7 linked regions of the Homo sapiens genome follow. The protein of the gene in region 2 purifies or fractionates together with the protein of the main gene of each other region. This does not show direct contact. Each region holds a gene or a part of one and is shown on either strand. Other genes may lie near its edges.

Region 1 (3,500 bases), on a different chromosome or scaffold from region 2:
ATGTTCTTTTTGATTCTCTGAGCCTTAACTTTCTCATTTGTTAAATAAGAATTTTTTTCCCCTATTAAATGGCAGTAAAAACGAATGCACAGATTAAGGAAACATTGAGGCTTAATTTCAAACATAATAGCATTTAAATTTAAAATTGGTATATCTGTAAGATGGACTTTGGACATTTATTTGAAATGCTCAAGTAAAACAGCTAAAGTATTGGCAAAACTGTAACTGCTTATTAGCTTCTGTTATCCCACAGGTCCCTCTATTTAGTAAAACATTTAGCTACAATGAATAACTATTTGTTACTAAATTATGATTAAAAGCCCCTAATTAAATATTTAAGTAAAAATAACAACCTTCTTCAATGTGCACATTACCACATTTACTCACTGAATGGCAGTCGGTGGTCCCGGGCCCTTTGGGCGCCCTCAGGAGAGACACACACGGTGCCCCTTTCACCAGGGAGGAGGTGGAGACCCGGGAAGCAGGCCCCTGGCTGGTAAGCCACAGCCATTGGGGAAGTAAACAATGTGATACCTTGAATAAACCTGTGACTTCTGGCCCAAGCAGTGCAGCTGCTATGGCCACAGTGTTCCTTCTTACACAGGGCTTTCTTCAGAGCCAAAGCGCCCAGTGACAGGGGTCTGTGGTGCCAGCCTCCAGCAAGGCACATGGCAGTCATTTATGGAGCCTTGTGGGCGCAAGACCATGAGGCAGATTTGGATCCAACCCTCAGAAGCTTATGTGCAATCAGGAGGCCTCTAGTGATGCAGTTTCTAATCAAAGCAGCCTCCAGAACAACTCCAAACCATGGGGCATTCATGGCCTTGGTCCATCGGACTAAGCCTGGCCAATTAGGCACGCCCTCAGGGTGCTGTAAGCTCTGGAAGGAGGCATGCAGCCTGTTGGCATCAACTGTCCCCTCATCCAGCACACCTTGGGGGGCCTGCTGTTCCATCTAAGATCCAAGGAGCATCGTGAAGGGGGAGCGGTCATTGCACACACAGGGACTAGGAGACACCACAGGCAGGCCTCAGGCACCTTGCAAAAGCATGATAAACTGAGGCTCTTGGAGAAGGCGGCTGTTTTCTGCTTTCAGGATGACTCTGTTACGGCCTCACCTTTTATGGCAGCAGGGGATTCTCAAGCGAGGTCCCATCTGTCCAGCCGGCATTGTTAGCCTGCCCTCTGGGCAATCCTATGACACCCCTCTCAGTTGAAAACATTTTCTGTTCTGCAGGAAGCTGTGGGAGACCGGGTGCCTGTTCTTCTGCTGGGTAATAAGCTTGACAACGAGAAGGAGCGGGAAGTCCCCCGGGGCCTCGGAGAGCAGCTTGCCACGGTAAAGAGCAAGCATTTCCATCTCTCTGGACAGAGTGTGACCCCGAGGGAAGTTGGGCAAGTGCCCAAGAGCCTTGGTGGGGACTTTCTCTGGAAGTGCCATGGGAAGGAAGCAACTGGAAAACATGGGTGTCTTGGTATCCTGGGAATGGCTCAGCTCCTGTGCATGTAGAACTTTGCATAGAAAGCCACAGGTTGCAAGATGGAGTTGGTTAGGGACCACTAGGGCATGGGGAATTATCCTAAAGTCCCTTCCTTGTAACTCAGAAGTATACATTCTAAGATAGCAATAGTTTACTTATTTCAATCCCCCTCCAATCTGCATTTCCACTTGATCACCCCCAGGGATGAAAAACTCACTCTCTGCAAAGCAGTGTATTCTTCTGCAGACCACTGTGTTAGAGAGTTCATCCTTTTTGTCAGGATTGAGCCTCAAAGTCATGAACTCAAGATAAACTCAGGAGACACACTGGAAAACCTACCATTAAAAAGCATGGAGCCCCTTGCTCAAAAATGGAATCAATGGGGCTTAATGGAAATCAGGCAACAAAATGTGGTTCCTTGGCTTCTTTTACTGCCTCAGAGTTTGTTTTCATGGAACTGTGTGTCTGGGAGGTTGGGGTGCTTACCAGCCCCATGATTCTGTAATTCTTTGCATGCTCATCCTAAACAGCGTTTCATGAGTTCAGAGCCTGGGAGAACGAGCACAGATGGTAAGACTCAAGGAAAAAGGAGGAGGAAGGGCCTGGCAGGTATCTACATGGAGGGTCACTAGACAGTTACATGTCCACAATTCCGAAATCCAAAAAGCTCTGAAAACAGAAAGGGTTGTTTTGTATTTTATCTGGCAGAAAAATCTGACCAGAAATGACACGAGGCTATTCATGGTTGTAACCTCACTTTGAGTGAATAGTCAAAGGTTTCACTGAAGAAATAGTAATATATTTGATTATAGAGTGCTGTCTGAAATCCACTGAGGGTATTATATAATATATGGTATATACATGTATTACCTTTCTAAGATTCAGAAAATTCTGGATTTCAAAATATACCTGGACCCAAAGATTCTATCCATTCTCTTTTCTTTTCTTTTTTTTTTTTGTTAGTGAAAAAAAAACTAAGACTCGGGAGTTAAGTGATACATTCGTATTATCACAGCTCACCCGAGGTGGGGTCAGAACTCAAAGCAGGAAGGCAAATCATGTCTTCCAGTTCTAAGTCCTATGTCCTTCTCTCCCCTCCCCACTATTCCCACCCCATGGAACTTCTACTCTTTGACAGACTGACCCAAGAGATTGCAGATCTGAGAGAAATGCAGACAAGGAGAAATAGAGCCCATGGGGCTGGGTGAAAAGGGCAGAGGGTCGAGCTGGCCTGTGGGTGTAGATGGGGAAAGCTGCACTGGGAGCATGGCAGAGCCTCCTGAGCTACAGCCACAGAACTGTCCTCACTCAACTGGCCTGCATCCCCTCAGGGCATCAGCCTCCAAGAACAGGCCATCTAAAAGCCAGGGCCCTGTGCCATCAGCATTGTCATAATGACACCAGTAATCTATTAATGGGAGTGATCAATGGAATATGATGAGCCTTAACCAAGGGCTCCCGCACCATGCAGGCAGCACAACCTCATCCTAATGAGCTGACGGCCAGTCTGGTGCACCAGTGCTGACAGCCAGGGCAGCTAGAGTATTAATTAACTGGTGCGAAAGAGAATTCCTACCGGAGTGCCTCATGACACCTGTCCCCAAGGCCTATGGAATGCCACTGTCTTGGGAAAAGCATGCTGCAAGGAGCTCTGCCATTAACTCAATGTGGGACTGAACAAGCCAGCCAAGTGCCCTCTCTCACTACAGCTTATCTGCCTGTGAAAGGGGGAAGAATATTGCCCACCCTGGCCTTTGTGTCTTTGCCTGAATCACAGGGCTGGTGTAACCTGGAATGAGCATGTGTGTACTTGAGAGGAATTTGGGAAAGTGTAAAGAGGAACTAAGACAGCGTATGGTTTCATTGTTTTACAATTGTTATAGCTCACCTGGGAGATGGTTACAGAGCTTGCATTGTCAGGGAGGCTGTGGAGACAGAAATCAGCCATGTACAGAGTGGGGAAGGATTATGAGGAAGGTCAAGGGGCTGCGAGAGGAAGTGAAGGCTGTAGGTAGATGC
Region 2 (3,500 bases):
TTGAGACAGAGTTTTGCTCTGTTGCCCAGGCTGGAGTGCAGTGGCGCAATCTCGGCTCACTGCAACCTCCGCCTCCCAGGTTCAAGTGATTCTCCTGCTTCAGCCTCCCGAGTAGCTGGGATTACAGGTGCTCGCCACCACGCCCAGTGGCACAATCTCGGCTCACTGAAACCTCTGCATCCCGGGTTCAAATGATTCTTGTGCCTCAGCCTCCCAAGTAGCTAGGACTACAGGCACGAACCACCATGCCCAACTAATTTTTGTATTTTTAGTAGAGACAGGGTTTCACCATGTTGGCCAGGCTGCTCTTGAACTCCTGGCCTTAAGTGATCTGCCCACCTCGGCTTCCCAAAGTGCTGGGATTACAGGCTTGAGCCATGGTGCCGGGACCACATGCAACTTCAATCTCTCACCCACATCAAGGGGTATAAATGACACAGCAGTGAGCTCATGGAGTTAAGAAGTTTAGGCCTCAGCACACCTTGCTGGAAAGAGTCCCAGCTAGGCTTACAGCACAGCTTGTGAACTATGCGAGGTGGGAGATCAAATGATAGCTTTTTAATCTGTCTAAATTTCATGAACTCCATCTCTAAGAATAAGCAAGAGGAAAAACAAAATGGACCCTTGAGAAATGTCACAAGTTGTAAAACAGCCCTCAAACACAAGAAGTGCAGTTTAATATGTAAATATTGAAAAATGTTTTACACAATGAAATGTAATAACCAAAATTAAAAGAAAAGCCACAGAATGGAAAAAATATATGTGAAAGTATATTTAATAAAAGTGCACTACCTAAAATATATAAAGAATTGTTAAAAATATATAAAAATAGATACAAATACATAATATTCAGATTCTACTTGACTAATAGAGAAGATAGGTAGTTTAAAGTAAGAGGAAATACTGATAGGTAATACAAGGAAATATGAAAAGCCTATCATTTAAAGAGATACAAATTTAATGCCTTTACCTACATATTAAGCTAAAAAAGCTAAATCCACTATTAGCCAGGATGGTAGAAAAAGAAGTACAAAATCCCCAAAGTATGATAAAGTTGTCCAATCTCTGGAGCCCGATCTTAAACACTAGAAATCTATAAAACTATTCATAAGCTTTAATAAAATAATTTTGAATTACAATGCAAAATAATTTTTGGCTTATCTTAAATCCTTTGTGAAAAAGGTCAGTGAGGCAGGGTTAACTGTATACATAAATACATGCATAAATACCTACCTCTAAATTTATTATTTTGTAATTTATTATGTTTGTATAATTTTTGTTTTTTGAGATGGGGTCTCTTGTCACCCAGGCTGAATACAGTGCCATGATCAAAGCTCACTGCAGCCTTGACCTCCTGGGCTCAAGCAATCCTCCCACCTCAGCTTCCCCAGTAGCTGGGACCACAGATGTGCACCACCATGCTCAGCTAATTTTGGTATTTTTTGTAGAGATGGGGGTTTTACCATGTTGCCCAGGCTGGTCTCGAACTCCTGAGCTCAAGTGATCTGCCTGCCTCAGCCTCCCCCACAGTGTTGGGATTACAGGCATGAGCCACTGCACCAGCTGATAAGTGTTTTTTTTTTTTTGTAAGAGCAAAACAAAAAAACCCAGGCATGATTTTAAAAGCTGGCAAGAGTGGCTAAATAAACTGATATTTCAATATATTATACAATTATTTAAAATAATAAATATAATGGCCTTTGTAGGATACATACATATTAAATTATTTACAAAGCAAGACACACAATAGTGTACAATGTAAGATCAATTACCTCTATCTAAAAAAAGTGTACAGTAGTAGACTGACAGAGTCAAAGTAGATGAATGGTGATTTATAGGCAGAAGTTGCTATATATTTGATTGTGTTCTTTAAAATGTGCATGAGGCCAGGTATGCTGGCTCATGCTTGTAATCCCAACACTTTGGGAGGCTGAGGCAGGAGAATTGCTTGAACTCAGGAGTTCAAGATCAGCCTAGGCAACATGGCAAGACCTCATCTCTACTAAAAATAAAAAAAAAAAATTAGCCAGGCGAGATGGTGCACACCTGTAGTCCCAAGTTCTCAGGAGGCTGAGGCAGGAGGATTTCTTGAGCCTGGGAGGTGGAGGCTGCAATGAGTGGTGATTGTCACTGCACTCCAGCCTAGGTGACAAAGTGAGACTCTGTCTCTAAAATAAAATAAAATGTGCATGAATATTTTTAAGGAATACATTTGCCTCAGAGAGGAACTTCTCAAATAACTGAAATCCTAATTATCACTCAAAACAGCTGTCAGGTATCTTCCAATACTCTGACAAAAGGAATTTACATTCCTAATGAAAAGGTTGAGGAGTAATTGGAGAATGGTAAAAGTATTCTATGCTCACCTGGAAGACGGGTACTACTTGGGATATCCCATGTGGTTCCACTGGATCTTTCAATAAGATGCAGAGGTAGTAAATCACCTTCTGCTGTAAGAAAATAAATCAAATAGCAAAGTCTAAGTGAAACTCATTTTGCATTCTTTTTTTCTTTTTCCTTTATTTATTTATTTTTGAGACAGAGTCTCTCTCTGTTGCCCAAGCTGCAGTGCAGTGGCGCAATCTCGGCTCACTGCAACCTCTACCTCCCAGGTTCAAGCGATTCTCCTGCCTCAGCCTCCCAAGTAGCTGGGATTACAGGCGCTCGCCACCATGCCCGGCTAATTTTTTGTATTTTTAGTAGAGATGGGGTTTCACCATGTTGGTCAGGCTGGTCTGGAACTCCCGACCTTAGGTGATCCGCCTGCCTTGGCCTCCCAAAGTGCTGGGATTACAGGCGTGAGCCACCACACCTGGCCACATTCTATTTTTCTAAGGGAAGGCTCAACACTTTTTCACAAATGTTTAAGTAGTAGAACACTTGATAGCTTTTGAAGTGGAAGAAAAGTATATTCTCATTCTTTAAATGAAAAAAGACAGGGCCAGGCGTAGTGGCTCAAACCTGTAAACTGAACACTTGGGGAGGCCACAGCAGGAGGATGGCTTGAGCCCAGGAATTCAAGACCAGCCTAGGCAACATAGTGAGACTGCATCTCTGCAAAACATAGAAAAAACGAGCCAAGCATGGTGGTGCATGCCTGTAGTCCCAGCTACTCAGGAGGCTGAGGTGGGAGAATGGCTTGAGCCTGGGAAGTTGAGGCTGCAGTGAGCTGTGATCGAGCCACTGCACTCCAGCCTGGGCAACAGAGTGAGACCCTGTCTCAAAAAAAAAAAAAGAAAAAAGATAGAAAGAGAAGGAAAAAATGCCAGTGATAATTTTGAAGTTGGTCTTGAAGATAAAGTTGAAATGCTAATTCCCTATCCATGAAAACCTGCTGCATCTCTTTAAAAATAAAGAGATTTACCTTTTAAATATAAGTCTCACTTTTACGGTTTTAGTTTAAATCTGGGAACATCCCATGGGCTGGCTACCTCCTCCAGAGAGGCCTGTAATACTTACCTTTTAAATACTTACCATGTAAATGGCCTCATTGATGACAA
Region 3 (3,500 bases), on a different chromosome or scaffold from region 2:
CATACTCATCTACCAGTATTCTTCAAACTGCTTTTTGGGATGGATGCTAATTAATTTTAGTTGCAATGACCAAAATACAAAACTAAAGAAAAAAAAATAATGTCATAAGACAATCATTTGGCTGAATAAAATTCCTTCAATCTGTATCTTTACATATGATTTACCAATCAGTTGAGTAGTACATTTCGTTGGCTAAAGGTAATTGGAAATATTTTCTGTTCTAAAATTGACTACTCTTGCACAGACCCAGCCCTGAATTCATTATAATCAGACAGCTTAAATCATATGGCATGCAAAGCTTCCATTAAAATCTAAAAATGTCTCACGCCTGTAATCCCAGCACTTTGGAAGGCCGAGGCGGGAGGATAACGAAGTCAGGAGATCAAGACCAACCTGGTTAACAGGGTGAAACCCCGTCTCTACTAAAAATACAAAAAAATTAGCCGGGCGTGGTGGTGGGTGCCTGTAGTCCCAGCTACTCGGGAGGCTGATGCAGGAGAATGGCGTGAACCTGGGAGGTGGAGCTTGCAGTGAGCCCAGATCTTGCCACTGCACTCCAGCCTAGGAAAAAGAGTAAGACTCCATCTCAAAAAAAAAAAATCTAAAAATGTCCCAAAACATATGTTTTGTTGAACATCTACTATGTGAAAAACATTACGATATTCAGGCTGTGAGATACAAAGATGAATAAGAAATCTTCTCCCCGCTTCAAGACGAGTGTTTTTGGTTAAGATGTACAGCTAAAATACAAAATACACACCAAGTAAAGTGTAACAGAAGAAAACCTAAAGGATTAGAGTGAAAACTTATTAAAATACAATCATTTTAATCATCTGCTACAGATATCACTAAGAGATCAATATCATCCTTTAATTTAAAGCCAAATCGTGAGTTTTTTTTTTTTTTTTTTTGAGACAGGGTCTCTGTTGCCCAGGCTGGACTGCAGTGGCACAATGACAGCTCACTGCAGCCTTGGCTTCCTGGGTTCAATTGAATCTTCCACCTCAGCCTCCAAAGCAGCTGGCACCACAGGCATGTGCCATGCCCAACTGATTTTTGCAGTTTTTGTATAGATTGGGTCTTAGTATGTTTCCCAGGCTGGTTTCAAACTCTTTCGCTCAAGCAATATTCCCACCTTGGCCTCCCAAAGTGCTGAGATAATAGGCATGACCCATCATGTCCGGCCCTTTATTTCCGGTATTCTTAATCCTTTATAATCTCCCTTCAAGAATATCAGAATTAAAATCCCATATAACTGATGGAAATTTTCATAGGAGCATTTGGTCTAAATTTCTAGGCTCCCAAAAGAAAAAATAATAAATGTAGAGCAATCGACATATGTGACTGCTGCAACCCCTTGAGAAAAGACGAGTGTGTATACAGCTAAAATACAAATTAAGTAAGAGTAACTCTTATTCTTTTAGAGCTGTGTTTGTCTCAGAACCAAATAAAGTATTTTAAGAGGATACTGGAGGACCTTTTGGAAAGCTATTATTTGACTTGAAAGAATGTGCAAGATAAATCATGTCTGTGGACTTGAAACTGAAAATAACAAAAGGTTTATAAAAAGAAGCAAGACTATTCTAAAAGAGAGTTTGAGGATAGTTTGCTTTGTTTTTAGCTGTCATCTCCTTGGTAGAGAGTGTGCATACAGACACACACACACATATGTATATATAATGTATACATATTTATACATGTGTATATATTTATGATATGTACACAACATGATCCCCTTGCCATCGTGAATAAGGCCAGGGTGTATCAAGATTTAATTTTTGAGAAATCATCATGCCTTTAGAAACACTCAGGACGCTCTGCTGTCCTAGCCCCATGCCCTCACCTGTCTTTTCATCCCAACAGGGCTGGCTCAGGTGCTGCCCCAATAGAGCTGTCCTGGATTCCCCTAGGCAAGGTCACGTGCTTTCTCCTTGGTATCACCACTGAACCTGGTACAGATCTTGATTACAGTATTAATCACAAGTTACTGAAATTATCCGTTTCCTTTCTAGACAGTGAGGTACTAGAGAACAGTGAACCTGGAACCTAGCAGAGTGCCTGGTAAAATACATACACTCAGCATTTTTAGAACAGATAACTGGGGGTATCTCAAAGTGCCACAGAAGAAGAAAATTCTACTAGGGCCATAAAACCACTAGGCATTATGTTAATCAAGTTATCTTAGAAGAATAAATCATCCATTCCTTCCACAATTACTTGCTTGGCTCCTACCAAGGTGCCATGAGGGACACAGCTTAAAACACAAAACACACAAGGTACCAGTCTTCAGGGAGCTTACATTTTAGAGGAGAATGAGGAAAAGAGACAACTCTTAAAAATTATAGCAATGGAATATGTACAATATTTAAGATATTTTGCATGATCTCTAGAAGACTTAAATAACCTAGGCCAGTCACCAAGAAATGTACACTATGGTTATGGGAATGATAAACGCAAAGATAATGAATAACAAAGACAAAATACAGGATGAATGCTAACTGCATAGAACAAAAAAATAAGTGAGAATTCATTGTGAGCACTTTGGGCTAAGAGGATCATTAACAACTTTCTGGGTTTGTGACAGACTTGGGAGGGGAGGGAGGCTGTGAGCAGAAAAACACTAAGTGTTTTTTCTATTCTCTTATTCAACAATCAACACAGAAGACTTCAGTGACCAAATGTGCAAGGATTTCTCCCCAGCAACAAGCAAGCAATCAATTCTGCAGTGGATACCAGCTGGGTATCCTCCAAGTGAATTCTGACACTATTTACCTGGAGATGGTGTCAGATCCCACAGTTAAGGGTTCAGTCCCACAAAATTGCCCCCCACTACTTCTGATGCCAATCACAAGCCCCGGGTCATTTTACCTATGCTTCTGATGAACTGTTTATAAATTGGGGTTCCCACGACACCCTCCTTGGGTTCCATTAATTTGCTGTAGTGGCTTGGGGAACTCAGGGAAACACTTCCCGTTTACCAGTTTATTATAAAAGATAAAGATGAAGAGATGCATAGAGTGAGGTATGCGGGAAAAGGCACTGAGTTTTCACGCCCTCCCAGGGCAAGCTACCTTCAGGTACCTCCACTGTTCAGCTATCCAGAAACTCCCTGAACCAGTCCTCTTGGACCTTTATGGAGACTTCATTGGATAGTCATGATTGAACCATGTTGAAAAGTGATTGGACAAAAAGCATACGATTTAATACTAATAGACTGAATGGGGAAACCCAGCAAGGCCTGTCTGATCAGATTTTTCTGGCATCTCTGTGCAGCATTCCTTCCTCCAGGGTATGGGGCAGGATCCCTTCTGAAATGGGGGTCTTATGGCCTACATTCAGACAAGGTAGATGGGAGAATTTCTTTATGGGCAGTTCTCACACAGAAAGATGGGGAAAGATTATAGTTTTAGTTTCTAAAATTGGAGAGACAAAGGTAAAAATAGGGCAGGTCAAAGATGGAGATTGTTTTCTGAGGCCTGCTTCTGCTTCTGAGGCCTAAA
Region 4 (3,500 bases), on a different chromosome or scaffold from region 2:
TTATTGTGGACGATTAAATGGGATGTATATATATTCCTGGGGGACCTGGTATGTGGCTTGTTACTTTCCTCTCCTCAGCTTCTCCCTCTCACTCCCCTCCCTTCTCTACCAAGGTAGACTTTCTTACAATTTTAGGTTAGAAATTTTCATGAAAGCAAGTACTTCAATTAACTTGCTGCTGCATATAATCAAATTAGAAAATAAAATATAGAGATGTGCACTTAGAATTGTTTAGAGATCCAGTATGGATAAATCAAGCCAAAATTAATTTGTATTGCCTTAAAATATGTTGAAACTGCATTTCAGAAGTGGCTTCCTAAATCTTTTCTTCAAATGTGAAGATAAGGTGACAAACCTGTTTTTATTTTCTGGTAGCTGAAAGACTAAAATAAAAAATGCAAACTTTGTCTATTAAAAAACAAATCTCCCAAATCTCTGAATTTCAAGCCTACTGGCATTTATCAAATATGTTTCTCCAATTCTAATCTGTAGACACTGCCCATGGGAAAATAATTTCTGAGCAGAGTGCAAAGAACTTAAGTGCACTTTTCTACTGTTCTATTTCTTACAATTATAGTAATATCTGATGTTAAAACTTGAATCCCAGAACTGTGCTTATGTAACCTCAGGGTTTCTTAAAAAGCTGGTTGACCCCAAATATCTGTTTTTCTATTTTGGAATTCTCATTATGAGCTACTCAATATTTTTTCCATTAAGGCATTGTGTCTTCACAATGTAAATTATGCCCAGACAGGAAAGATATGAATACACTGTGACCTATTTAAACATTTGCAACAATTAGTTTGTCAGAAAAGAAACTGTCACCTGTGTCCTAAAAAAGAAAAAAAAACGTAAGTTTTAAGGGAGATATAAGAGTCTTGAAAAATTCTGAAATACAGGGAATGTAGACTGACAGAATATATCACAGAGGTAAGGCTTTGGAGTCAGATGTACCTGGATATATATATATATATACTCCGACTCCTGCATTTGACAGCTGTATGACATTGGGCAAATTCCTTTTTTTACGCCTCAGTTTTTTCACCTTAAAATGAAGATATTATCTGGGCCTTTCTTATAGGTTTGTGATGAGAATTAAATGGATTACATATGTAAAACACTCAGAATCATGACTATTATGCAAAAAGTGCTCAATAGGTATAATTGTGATGATAATGATGGTGATGATGATGATATGATGGTGTTGGTGATATGATGATATGATGGTGATGATATGATGATGATGATGATGATGATGCTATCAGACTGCTGGGGCAGAGAAGATTTGCTTTGGCCAGTGACCTATGTGCCCTTGAAAGCCAGAATGCCCAGGAGTGGGAGAAATGGGAGTCGAGTAAAGACTGTTGGCTGGGTGCGGTGGCTCACGCCAGTAATCCCAACACTTTTGGAGGCTGAGGTGGGAGGATGGCTTAAGCCCAAGAGTTCTAGATCAGCTGGGCAACCTGGTGAGACCTCGTGTCTACAAAAAAATTACAAAATTAGCTGGGCCTAGTGGCATGCATCTGCAGCCCAGCTACTTGGGAAGTTGAGGTGGGAGGATCGGTTGAGTCTGGGAAGTCAAGGCTGTGGTGGACCATGATCATGCCACTTCACTCCAGCCTGGGTCACAGAGTGAGAGTTATTTTTTTTAAGAGCATTAAAAAGACAGAAATCACTCTGTATCATAGTTTGCTGGACTCCAACTTCATCTAGCCGCATGAACACTGCATCACTTTACAGCAGGCATAGCAAGTGGACAATAGCCTTGAAGACTTCCAGAGCAGTGATTGCTGCTGTCCTTTGTCCTCTCGTCTTCTCTTAGAAGTAGCTTTTACCTTGCAGATTGCTGAGAAAAACCTTAATTAATTTGAATAAGTTTGATTGGAAAATTATTTCAGATAATGTGTCTAAACATAACTGAAACTAATAAGTATCATAGAATAGGAAACCTTTTCAATGTCTCATCTCTTTCCCATCAAAAATTTCCAGAATAGCATCCCAGAGGAATAAACTGTTTTATTATAATAACATGTGTGTTGGATCAGAGATAGTATTATACAGAAACCTTGCCACACAAAGTCATAAAAACTTGAATTTGAGTTATAGGTCCATTTATTTCTCTGAGCGTGGCAACTATTTTACCCCTCTCGGTCCTAGTTCCTTGCTGGTGAAATAGGGATTATATCAAAGGATTTCTATGCAGAATAAGCAAAGTGGCATTTGCAAAGGGCTCATGGTAAATGCCCAATAAAAAATGCTATCATTATTTTATTAACACTATCACTACATTTGTTATTTATATAACAAATGTCAATATTATCTGTGGTAACATCTACATAATCCAAAACAAAAATAGCCGTTGGTCTATCCACCTGGGAAGTATAAGAAATCTAATGAGGCTTTTCTTTCCATTCAATTCCCTTTTTATTAGTTTTTCCAAAGTAATTTGTATTTGTGGTAATCTATGAAAGGATGTGCTGGATATAGGCACCAAGGGTAAATGATGTCAAATACAGAAATAGGTTCAGAGGAAGCTGAGATAAGCAGCATTGGTTGTGCTGGCCAGATATAATATAGATACATTCATGGTGTGTGTAACAATAGTTTTAATCAGATGGCTGCAAAAATGTCGTTCTTTCTTGCAGGAGAACCTGGACTTCTCATTTCTCGAGTGAATGCAAAAAATCCCTTCTTTGGCTATGCTGGGCCTTATAAGCACACAAAAGACAAATTGCTTTGTGATGTTTTTAAGAAGGGAGATGTTTACCTTAATACTGGAGACTTAATAGTCCAGGATCAGGACAATTTCCTTTATTTTTGGGACCGTACTGGAGACACTTTCAGGTATGAAATGTTATGGGATCCATAGCTTGTTCTGTAATTGTGAACCATGCTTCTATAGAAACATCAGAGACCACATATGCTTTAGCTTTCAGGGCAGACAGAGCCCTTTTATCTCCATGTCTCCTCATTAAAACATTTATTGGCCATCTGTTTCTAGACTGAACCACAAGTTAAATTTTGATGTAAAGTTTTATGATTATTTTAGTGAATCAGTTTAGAACAAATCAGTGAGCTCCTTTTTAAGGAAATAAAACTGGCAGACAGATGTAAAATATAAATGGTAGGGTTAAAACAGAAAGCCAGTTTGGTCAACTGTAGTCTAATTCTTGGCCTAATGATAAAAATTTTGAAGCAGCAAAAATCCCCTTTCTCACATTTCCTTTTTTAATTCCCTAAGATTATTTTAGGCCTATGAAATTATTTTGCTTTACTAGTCCAATGACTTGAATGAATAAGTAACTTCCTACATCCTTGCCTTCTTGTACCATGTTATAAGCTCACTTTATATAAAATTATTTCAATTAAAACAAAATATTCATTCAAAAGCATTAAAGGAGTCAAAGGGGGTTAACACCTAGAAATTTAAGTGGGTCAGAGTCAAAGGGGTTAACACCTAGAAACTGAAGTGGGTCAGTGTCCTAAAAGACAACTAGAGC
Region 5 (2,233 bases), on a different chromosome or scaffold from region 2:
TTACAGGCGTGAGCCACCGCGCCTGGCGAGAAGGTGAATTTGAGCTGGGTCTTGGAGAATGGGTAAGATTTGACTGGAGGGTGGGAGGGGGCTTCTCATTGAGGAGATCAGGCCCTCCTGGGGAAGGGACAGATGGGCTGGCGCCAGGCTTACTTTGAGGTGCTCAGAAGGGCCTTCGTCCTGGCCCAGCATGGACCCTGTGGCTTTGCACGACCTTTTCTCCCTGAATCTCTGTCCCATGTGTGTTGCTCAGGGACTCAGGGGAATGATCAGAGTGGGCGAGGCTGGTATGGTGGCCACCTGGGCACAGGGGCCCTTCCTGCCTCTGAGATATCCCTTAAGTCTCTCCCCAGCCCCACTCTCTCCTCTCAGTGACACAGAAATGAGACTCTGAACAAGTCCCTTGCCCAGCGTCATGCAGGGACCTCAAAGAGGCCCTCCAGATAGGAGGGTGGGGACCCGGCCCAGGTGCCCAGGGCAGCACAAGTCAGACACCTGCCTCAGAGCTTTTCTTTGTTTTTATTTTAAAGGAAAAAAACAAAAAAGAACAAAAAAACCAAAAAAAAAACAGTGCAAAAACCCATTTTCCAGTGTCAGCCTTGCCCACCCCCACCCCCAGGCCACCCCAGCTGTGAGCCTGACTCTTCCTCCCACTCAGCACCCCCTCCCCCCTCATGCATCCCCTAGGGGCTGGAGGCTCCACTTCCCTGGAGGGCCAGATCCCAGGAGGAACTGTGGGGTGGAAAAAACGGAGGGGGGGGAACAGCCCCAGATCCACCTGCCCCCCAGGTCTCCAGCCACCGGCACCAGGTGCACCAGGTACTCCTCTTGGCTCTCATTAACCCTCTCCTGGTCATGCTACTAGCTGGGGAGGGGTGGGGGGTACTGATCTGGGGGAACTCCCTCTGCACCCCTCTTTGCCCCGGGGCCGGCTCGGGGCTCTCCTCACTGAGGTTGGGGGGCTCCCTCCCTCCATCATGGGGGAGAGCAGTGAAACCCCCAAGTTTAAATACCTTAATGAAAGCAGGGGCTGGGGAGGAAGGGGCTTTAGATCTAATAAATTATTAGCGTTTTAGTGTCCGTGGGAGTGGGGGTGGGGTGGGGCAGGATGTGGCCTCCAGGGCCCCTCCCTCCCCTTACTGGTGAATCTCATTCTCTATGAGGCTGTCCTCGCAAGACTGGAAGTCTGTGTCCGTGAGGGCGTCGGGTGGCATCAGCAACTCCTCATCTTGGGATGAGGATGATGGGGGCTCATCCCCTGAGCTCCCAGGAGCCCCATCCCCATCCCCGTCCACCTCTGAGTCCTGCAGCACCTGAGCGATGTATTTCTGAAGGAGGAGAGGAAATGGGGGCAAGGTGAACAGCTGCCCCTCATGGATTGCGGGAACACCAGGGCATGTAGGACAGCAGAGTGGGCAGGGCCCTGGGGGGCGGGGGCAGCCCTCCAGGGAGACCAGCTCTCTTCCCGCCCCCATGGGGTCTGGCACAGGTTCCCCTTTCTGCAGGACTAAGGGAACACTGGGCTTTGAGGCTGAGTCTGTCAGAGGCCCCTCCCAACCCTTGAGGGCACTCACCGCAGATTTGGGGACAGCAGCAGCAGTGGGGGGCCGTCCATTGCTTCTGGGGTCCACAGTATCTGTCTCCGTGTGCTCAATCTTGAGGGGCCCAGAATGAGTCAGGAAGTGGGGGCATGTCCTCAGCCCTGATCATGACCCCACGCCCGCTTGGCCCTGTTGGCGCTGCCCTCAGCCCTCGCCAGCCCTGTGGCCCTCTGCATTCCTCCCCTTGAGCTCCTGCCCGCAGCCATCCGCCTGCCACCCTTGCCCCACACCTTGTAGTTGTGGGCACTGAGGTATTTGAAGTGTCCAAAGCAGACGTGGCAGAGACAGATGACGATGGTGATGACCAGGACCACAAATGTGAACATAGACGTGGGAGCTAGGAACCCTGGTGTTGGGGGGCAAAGAATGGGGTTGCTATCTCCTGTGGGCCTCCCCACCCCAGCTTCTGATACCCTCTGAATGCAGTCCTCACTCTCCCAGGTGCTACAGACTGGCCCCAGCCTCTCCCAGGCCCCTTGCCTGCCACCCCCAGCCATGCGGCTTCTCCTGTGGCCTGCTCTGGCTGGAATCCACTCTGCTCGCCACCCCCCGTTCCCTGGGTAGGGATCCCTCACCCGTGCGCATGGTGGAAAAGAAGAGCAGCCAGAAGAGGCAGAGGATGGGCGCGGCCA
Region 6 (3,500 bases), on a different chromosome or scaffold from region 2:
CCGGCAAAAAAAAAAAAAAAGAAATTGCGTGTTACTAGGATCAAAGTAATTATAAACCGACATTTTTGGTGTAATACATAAAAATATAAAATCAAATAAATTACATAAAAAATCCTACTATCATAAATTTGAATTTGGAATATTATGAATTATTTATATTCCCCTTTCTAGAGGATCTGTCTATCTTATCTCTCCTAAAACTTAGACTGTAGTCTCTACAGTTCTAACTGGAAGAAACCAAAGCTTTCTGAAGAAACACCCAACTTCGGTATAGGCTAAAAATGGACTTTGGGAAGGTGGGCAAAAAGCAATGAAGCTATCTGTCGAAGACTGCTGGGATCAAAATAAAGGATACAGGAGCCAGTTTGGAACCCATAGTCCAAAGCTGGAAAAGTTTGCATATCAAAAATAATAACTAGATATTAAATAATATTAATTATCCCTCTTAAATTATTAAGAGGGATAATGATATTACGGTCATTAATGTTCATTTATATGACTGTCAGAGCCTTCTGGGCTGATGAACTCGTCTCAAAATCTTCCTCCTCTCAAAAACATTTCTCCATACATGCTTTACATCTTTTTGTCTGGCTGCTGTATACTGGGTACCCACTTACTGACAGCCACTGTAATAGGTGCTTTTTAAATATTACCCTCAATCACTGCAACAGCACTTCAGAGATAAGAAAAAGAGATGTTATGTGATTGTCTGCCCAAGACCTTATAGCTACTAGATGTCAGAGCCAAGCATTTTTTTCCTTTTCTTTGAGACACAGTCTTGCTCTGTTGCACAGGCTAGTCTTGAACTCCTGGACTCAAGAGGTTCTCCCACCTTGACCTCCCAAAGTGATGGGATTACAGGCATGAGCCATCCCGCCCAGCCTCAGAGCCAAGATTTGAATCTAAGTCTGTCCAGCAGCAAAGCCTGCCCTGTTCCCTATACTATGCGATAATCCCTTTTCCAAAAAATCATGACCACTTGTTTAAAAACCCCGCTTTCAATTCTAAACGCCTATAAGATAAATCTCTTTTACGACCCAATACAAGCTGGACTCAGTCTACCTTTCGAATCACCCTCTGTCCGTTTATCTACAACACAGCTCTGTCTCGAATCAGCTCGCACACATGCACTGCTGTACATTCTGGGCTTTCTACTCCATTCCGCTGGCCTATATTGATCACTCAATGATCTGTATTTTCTATTAGCTTAAAGACAATTCTAATGTCTGACAGATAGAAGGTGATCAGTAAACCTTTGCTAATCAATTACTTTATTTAAAAAATTTTCTTTAAAAATTCTTTTGTACAGACAAGGTTTCACTATATTGCCCAGGCTGGTTTTGAACTCCTGGGCTCAAGCAATCCTCCCGCTTTGGCCTTCCAAAGTGCTGGGATTACATGGCTAAGCTACCATGTCTGGCCCTAGTCAATGAATGAACGCTGGGAATTCATGTCCCCCACATTAAAAGAGCTGTACTTGTACCTGTGAGATGCCTCGAGTGGAGCTGTAGGAACTGGTAATGGCATTGCGGCTGGAGCTAGGGATGCCACTTGCGTAAGCGCCTGTCAAGGAGCTCATGGAAGAGCTTCGGGATCTCTTATTCAAGTGGTCATCTGAGCTCTGAGAATTGAGGCCTCTCTTCAGAGACCCAGGCCTAATAAAAGAGAAGACAGTTAGATGCTTTATTGAAGGCAAAATTCTTTTACGATTTCATCCACGGTCATGACATCTTTCTTAATAACATGAAGGGAAGAGAATAATGCTTTTAATTTTTACTGCTAACAATCTGGCCAAATCTATCTGACAAAGTCAGTAAGAAAAGCCAAATATTTAAAACTTAAATGTATGATTTCCATTTATAGAATATTCTGGAAAATGCATACCTATCTACAGTGACAGAAGACAGATCAGTGGATGCCTGGGAACAGGGGTGGAAGTAAAGAGAGGGATTACAGGCATGTGGGAACTTTTGGAGGTGAAGGATGTTCATTATCTTAGTGGTGGGATGGTTCCACAGGTGTATGTGTGTCAAAATGTCACATGCTTTAAACAAGTACGGTCTATTTTATGTCAATTATATCTCAACAAAGCTATTAAAAAAAAATCAGAGTTAAGAGGAACCCATCATTTTACTAAACCTCCAATGGAAACAGAAATCTCCTACGCATCTTTTCTGTAGGACAGTCATCCAACCTGTTACAATATAGACAACTCTCTCCTAGAGTGACCCACGTCAACCATGAACCAGTTTATTCTTACAGTGGATTACAGTGTATTTCCTCTTTCACCCACGGATCCTATTTGAAGTCAAACAGAGCAAGTTATTTTGCTTCTTTCAAGGGACAGTCCTTTGGTTTTTTGGAGACCATTGTCCTTCCCTCACTTATTTCTTTATTCCCCCTGAGACTTTTCTCCTCTGGGCTAATACTTCCATACCTCCAAAACCCCAACATCCACCACCACCCCTTTGGGCTGTTGCAAATCTCCTTAACATCTTCATTGCTTCACTGGGAATGAATTTCCGTTTGTGTACATCCTCCCTCGCAGTGCAGTACACTGATCTGACCACAGTGCTCCACGGACAGTGAGCAGAACTACGGAAGGCAGGAATACCATCCACCTGCCTCATTCTAGTCTTTCTTCTAACAGCACAGACCAGGAGCACTTTAGCTTTCCTGGCGGCCACATCACACTGCTGACTCAGATGAGGTACCTAAGGTATCCTAAGTCTTTCCACACATACTTTTGAGCCACTTTCCTTTCCACCCAATTCTTCCTCCAATTTGTTTTTAAACTGACATGTAGAAATTTAACATTTAGGTTTCATACTGTTTTATCCACTGCACAAACTTTGCAATCCTTCTGTGTATGTGCTTGGTTATTAAATATATTTATAAAACCTCTTAAGTCTCAGCATATTTCATCCATATTAATGCAAGAACATTAAAAGGAATTAGACAGAAGGCAGTTAACTGTGGCAAGTTACTCAAAACGTTCCTAATTTCAAAGACGTGAACCTGAACCAATTAAGCAATGCAAAAAACAAAGAGGAAAATCTATAGGGCAACAGCTCTGATCAGGCCTTTTTCCAAACAGTTGGTATTTCATCCGGATGGACTCCCACTTACTTAGGCACAAAAGAAGCGGGGACTCCATTGGCCACCAGGGGCTCAAATGCTGAATGTCCACTGCCACTGCTATCATGGCGCCTGCGACAAATCAAAAAAGTCTCAATGAAATGACATGACTTTTTTTGTCCCTTTAAAGTGTATTCTCATATTTCTGGGACCTTATACTATCTCTATGGAGCACAGATTCCATGATAGACCAGAAAATGGTTGTTTAAAATCCCTAAGCTTCTGAAAGGTAAATTTTTTTTTTTTCAGACAGAGTTTCGCTCTTGTTGCCCAGGCTGGAGTGCAATAGCACGATCTTGGCTCACTGCAACAAACCTCTGCCTCCTGGGTTCAAGCGATTCTCCTGCCTCAGCCTCCAGAGT
Region 7 (3,995 bases), on a different chromosome or scaffold from region 2:
TTTCCCCATAACATGCGTTCTCACATAATTGCATGTATTTCTGGGGTACAGTGTGATGGTTCCATACATATACACATTGTGCAACCATCTAATCAGGGTAATTAGCACATCCATCACCAAAACACTTGTCATTTCTTTGTGGTGAGAATATTCAAAATCCTCTCTTCTAGCTATTTTGAAGTTAACATTATCGTTGAGTATAGTCATCCAAACGTGCAAGAGAATACCAAAACTTATTCCTTCTAACTATAACTTTGTGTCTGTTGACCAACCTCTCCCCATCTTCCTCCCCACTAACTCTCCTCTGTACAAGAATAACCACTCTTTTACTCCCTACTTTCACGAGATCAACTTAAAAAAAAACTTTTTAAAACGACTGCATGATATGTTTTCAGGCTCACACATTTAAAAACCGTGACTTTGGCAAAGAGTAACTTCATTCTGCTGGGGAAAAAAATTTAAATGGCCTGAGTCCGGAAGCTCGCCAGGGCAGAAGCGCAGGGTCGCTCCGCCGGGCTCGCCGGGCCGGGGACCCCCCAGCCACCCGCCACCACGGCGGGGAGGGCAGGGTGCTGACTCCAGGGACCACGACAGTCGGCCCCGGTGGTGGGGATTCCGCGCGGGACCCACGCGGGAACAAAGAGGCGGCTGGACGGCCCAGCTCTCCGCACCCGGAAGGACCTGTTCCACCTCTCCGGCTCCCGTACCCCTCTATCCGCATCTGAGTGACCAGATCCCACTGCAGTCAACAGCCCGCGGGGTAGCCAGCTTCGAGGGACCGCCCGGAAAGACACAACGCGCGTGGAAGGCGCCGGGCGTCCAGTCTCGGGAGAGATTAGAAGTGGCGCTCCTGCCCAGCGCCGGCAATCCAGGGGAATCCGCGGCCATCGCGGATCCACCAGGGGTGAGGCGGCACTGAGCACAAGTGTGAGGCTCTCGGGAGCTACGCCTCCGCTTCCCCAGTGCCACCCGTTTTTACCTCAGGCGGTTCTGACCGCCATCGTTTCAACCTGGAGAGGTGAGCCCTCCCCTACCGACGCACTTCCCTTCCCCGGCAGGAAGGAGGGCGCTGACCCAGCGGGCGCACGCCCCTGACTGCGCATGCGCCGGGTGCGCCGTTCGTCAGCGGCGAGTGGCCTCGCGGCGCCGGATTCGTCGCTCCGCCAAGAGTGCGCCTGCGCGGTCGCTGGGGCTCGCACTTCAGCTTCCCCTCCCCCGGCGCCCTCTGGGGCTCCGAGCCCGGCGGGACCATGTTCACCAGCACCGGCTCCAGTGGGCTCTGTGAGTACCGGCCTCCGCCATCCTGGCTGCCCCCTACACGCCACCCTAGGCACCTCTTTGAGGAGGCTGGGGCAGCGGGGACCCTCGGGTTTGCCGGAGGTGGTGGGGCCGACCCTCCAGACCCGCGTCCGAACCCTGCTAGTTCCCGGTCTTGGGGGTCAGCGGAAACCGCCCCCATTTCGGCCTGGAGGGGCGAATGGGGACAAAGCCCCGCCGCCCGCCCCGACCCCACCTGGTATCCCCAGGTGCTCTGCCCAGGAGTCTCTTGGGGCCGCTGCAAGTGGGCAGGTGCCCTGGTGTTCTCGTGGGCCGGCCCCAGGCCCTTTGCGGAGCGTGTGCCGCGCTGAAGGAAGGGGCCGTCCCCCTTACCATGCCCCATTCTTTTAGGCTTGGGGGACCGAACTAACTCCCCCCGCCCCCACTTGCAAAGTTCAGCCTCCGCTTTAGAAGCTGACCTCTCAGTTTCACTTGGATGTGTTTCTTCTTCAGTCTCCAAGAAGAGTTTTTAGACAAACACACACTGATGAGAGTGCTTTCAAGTGGAGGGAAGTTAGGAAGTCGTGGCGAGGGAGCGCAGCTGTGCTGCTGGATGTTGCTGTTTTCCTGGCGTGTTAGCGGTGGTCAGCAGGTAGGGGGCGGAGTATTTTTACAGCCAGTTAAACGGCTTTTCTCACTGAGTGTGTGGAATTGACTTTCGGTAAGGTAGACTGCGTGTTAACAGTTAGGCACGGGTACAGCAACGGAGAACAGCTCTAATTTTGCAATTGCTTGTCACTGTTCATACTCCATGTGAAGTTAATGCTGCTGGAGGACAGAAACATCTGACATTTCCAAATATTAAAGATCTGTTGGCCGGGCGCGGTGGCTCACGCCTGTAATCCCAGCACTTTGGGAGGCCGAGGTGGGCGGATCACGAGGTCAGGAGATCGAGACCATCCTGGCTAACACGGTGAAACCCCGTCTCTCTACTAAAAACACAAAAAATTAGCTGGGCGTGGTGGCGGGTGCCTGTATTCCCAGCTACTCGGGAGGCTGAGGCAGGAGAATGGCGTGAACCCGGGAGGCGGAGCTTGCAGCGAGCCGAGATTGCGCCACTGCACTTTGGCCTGGGCGACAAAGCGAGACTCCATCTCAAAAAAAAAAAAAAAAAAAAAAGATCTGTTGGGAATGTCATGAATCTTCTGAGAATGTGTGTCTCGTCTTATAGTCTGACAGTGAGTTAGTATCAGCGCCACAGGCATAATTTTAAATCTTCCTCACTTCTCAACTTCTCAGGTTTTGAAGTGGTTTCAATATTTATGATTTCCTTTGTTTCATAATTAATTTGATTTATGGCATCTTTCATGGATTGGTCCCGGAGTATGTTACAACTACTAAGTAATCTTCCCCAAACTACCCTTTAGATAAAGAGCATTAGGACTGTAGCTGAAGCTGACAGTTCAAGAAGGCAATGTGGTTTTCCTGGGATCACACAGTGAGCCAGGAACTACTGGTTATGAAATTAATGGTGGAATTCTTCAATTTCAATTGTTCTTTAGCATTTTGATCTATCCTTGCTGGCCAAAGTACATATAAAAAAATAAAGGGCAAGAGAAATCTTATTGGTTGCTGTACTGTATTAGCCATGAGATTATATTGGCCAAGTGTATTCAAATTTGATACAGGGCAACTGTGGGGAAGATAATATTTTGTTATCTATGGCACATGGTGGTGAGTGTTGAATTCTAGGAACCAAACTGTTGCCCAGGGAGAGGCGTAGGTCTGGAGCCCCTCTGCAGCTGTCTTGGCCTGTTTCTAAAATTAAGTGCTTCTGCAGTGTAAGAGTTGTTGGGATGGCCGTTCCTCAGAAGGCTGTGTCTTACATGCTCATTTTACAAACATTTTGGGCATCTCCTCTGGGCGATGAACTGGGCTAGGTGCTGGGAATGCAGCAACGAACAGGTCCTGGTCTCAGTGCTTACAGTGCTGACGGAGCTTAGGCACAGTTTTCCAGGACTGGTCATTAGAAAAGGCTGTGTGTCAGCTTTAACATTTTTCTCTGGAGAAGCTACCCACTGAGGGAGAAGTGATTTCCTTTGTTTTATTTTATTTATTTATTTATTTATTTATTTATTTATTGAGATGGAGTCTCACTGTTGCCCAGGCTGGAGTGCAGTGGTGGATCTCCGCTCACTGCAACCTCCGCCTCCCGAGTTCAAGCGATTCTCCCGCCTCAGCCTCCCAAGTAGCTGGGATTACAGGTGCCCACCATCACACCTGGCTATTTTTGTATTTTTAGTAGAGACGGGGTTTTGCCATGTTGACCAGGCTGGTCTTGAGCTCCTGACCTCAAGTGGTCCTCCCGCCTCGGCCTCCAAAAGTGCTGGGATTACAGGCGTGAGCCACTGCCTATGATTTCCTTTAGATAAGTTGAGGGACCCTTTAGCAAATCAAAATTCTGATCCTGAGCAAGAATCTGAAAGAAGGACGACACGTGTACCTAGCCCTACCCCCATGGGTGGTGAATAACAGTCCCTTTCCAGGGATAAATCCCTGCCATTTTCTACCACCTGCATGTTTCCCACGTTTTGTGGTTAGTAGATAATAGTATTTTAGTGTTAAACTTGCCTTTCTCTCTCATCCATTCAATAAGTGTCTGTTGGGTACCCATATCAGCCACACACTGTTGATATACAGAGGATAAAGTAATAAGCAGGATCAAGGAGACCAGCATC

What was found.
Region 1: the proteins of PIGH (region 2) and CRACR2A purify together in Homo sapiens (affinity purification with mass spectrometry; one large-scale study listed by BioGRID and IntAct). This does not show direct contact.
Region 3: the proteins of PIGH (region 2) and ANO6 purify together in Homo sapiens (co-immunoprecipitation; 2 studies listed by BioGRID and IntAct, with this or other methods). This does not show direct contact.
Region 4: the proteins of PIGH (region 2) and SLC27A6 purify together in Homo sapiens (affinity purification with mass spectrometry; 2 studies listed by BioGRID and IntAct, with this or other methods). This does not show direct contact.
Region 5: the proteins of PIGH (region 2) and TMEM63B purify together in Homo sapiens (co-immunoprecipitation; 2 studies listed by BioGRID and IntAct, with this or other methods). This does not show direct contact.
Region 6: the proteins of PIGH (region 2) and POM121 purify together in Homo sapiens (affinity purification with mass spectrometry; one large-scale study listed by BioGRID and IntAct). This does not show direct contact.
Region 7: the proteins of PIGH (region 2) and UBAC2 purify together in Homo sapiens (co-immunoprecipitation; 2 studies listed by BioGRID and IntAct, with this or other methods). This does not show direct contact.

The regions. Positions count from the first base shown.
Region 1 is NC_000012.12:3,617,110-3,620,609, reverse strand, and holds part of CRACR2A (EF-hand calcium-binding domain-containing protein 4B), read left to right. Parts: intron 1-1,237; coding exon 1,238-1,339; intron 1,340-3,500.
Region 2 is NC_000014.9:67,590,269-67,593,768, forward strand, and holds part of PIGH (phosphatidylinositol N-acetylglucosaminyltransferase subunit H), read right to left. Parts: coding exon 3,475-3,500; intron 2,451-3,474; coding exon 2,367-2,450; intron 2,169-2,366; coding exon of another isoform or gene 2,047-2,168; intron 1-2,046. UniProt on the Homo sapiens protein: Part of the glycosylphosphatidylinositol-N-acetylglucosaminyltransferase (GPI-GnT) complex that catalyzes the transfer of N-acetylglucosamine from UDP-N-acetylglucosamine to phosphatidylinositol and participates in the first step of GPI biosynthesis.
Region 3 is NC_000012.12:45,222,595-45,226,094, reverse strand, and holds part of ANO6 (anoctamin-6), read right to left. Parts: intron 1-3,500. UniProt on the Homo sapiens protein: Small-conductance calcium-activated nonselective cation (SCAN) channel which acts as a regulator of phospholipid scrambling in platelets and osteoblasts.
Region 4 is NC_000005.10:129,024,488-129,027,987, forward strand, and holds part of SLC27A6 (long-chain fatty acid transport protein 6), read left to right. Parts: intron 1-2,645; coding exon 2,646-2,844; intron 2,845-3,500. UniProt on the Homo sapiens protein: Mediates the import of long-chain fatty acids (LCFA) into the cell by facilitating their transport at the plasma membrane.
Region 5 is NC_000006.12:44,153,787-44,156,019, reverse strand, and holds the end of TMEM63B (mechanosensitive cation channel TMEM63B), read right to left. Parts: coding exon 2,177-2,233; exon of another isoform or gene 2,043-2,176; intron 1,948-2,042; coding exon 1,832-1,947; intron 1,656-1,831; coding exon 1,575-1,655; intron 1,329-1,574; coding exon 1,137-1,328; 3' UTR 501-1,136; downstream 1-500. UniProt on the Homo sapiens protein: Mechanosensitive cation channel with low conductance and high activation threshold. Osmosensitive cation channel preferentially activated by hypotonic stress.
Region 6 is NC_000007.14:72,928,095-72,931,594, reverse strand, and holds part of POM121 (nuclear envelope pore membrane protein POM 121), read right to left. Parts: intron 3,211-3,500; coding exon 3,130-3,210; intron 1,656-3,129; coding exon 1,484-1,655; intron 1-1,483. UniProt on the Homo sapiens protein: Essential component of the nuclear pore complex (NPC). The repeat-containing domain may be involved in anchoring components of the pore complex to the pore membrane. When overexpressed in cells induces the formation of cytoplasmic annulate lamellae (AL).
Region 7 is NC_000013.11:99,199,659-99,203,653, forward strand, and holds the start of UBAC2 (ubiquitin-associated domain-containing protein 2 isoform 1 precursor), read left to right. Parts: upstream 1-1,195; 5' UTR 1,196-1,250; coding exon 1,251-1,281; exon of another isoform or gene 1,282-1,753; coding exon of another isoform or gene 1,754-1,909; intron 1,910-3,995. UniProt on the Homo sapiens protein: Restricts trafficking of FAF2 from the endoplasmic reticulum to lipid droplets.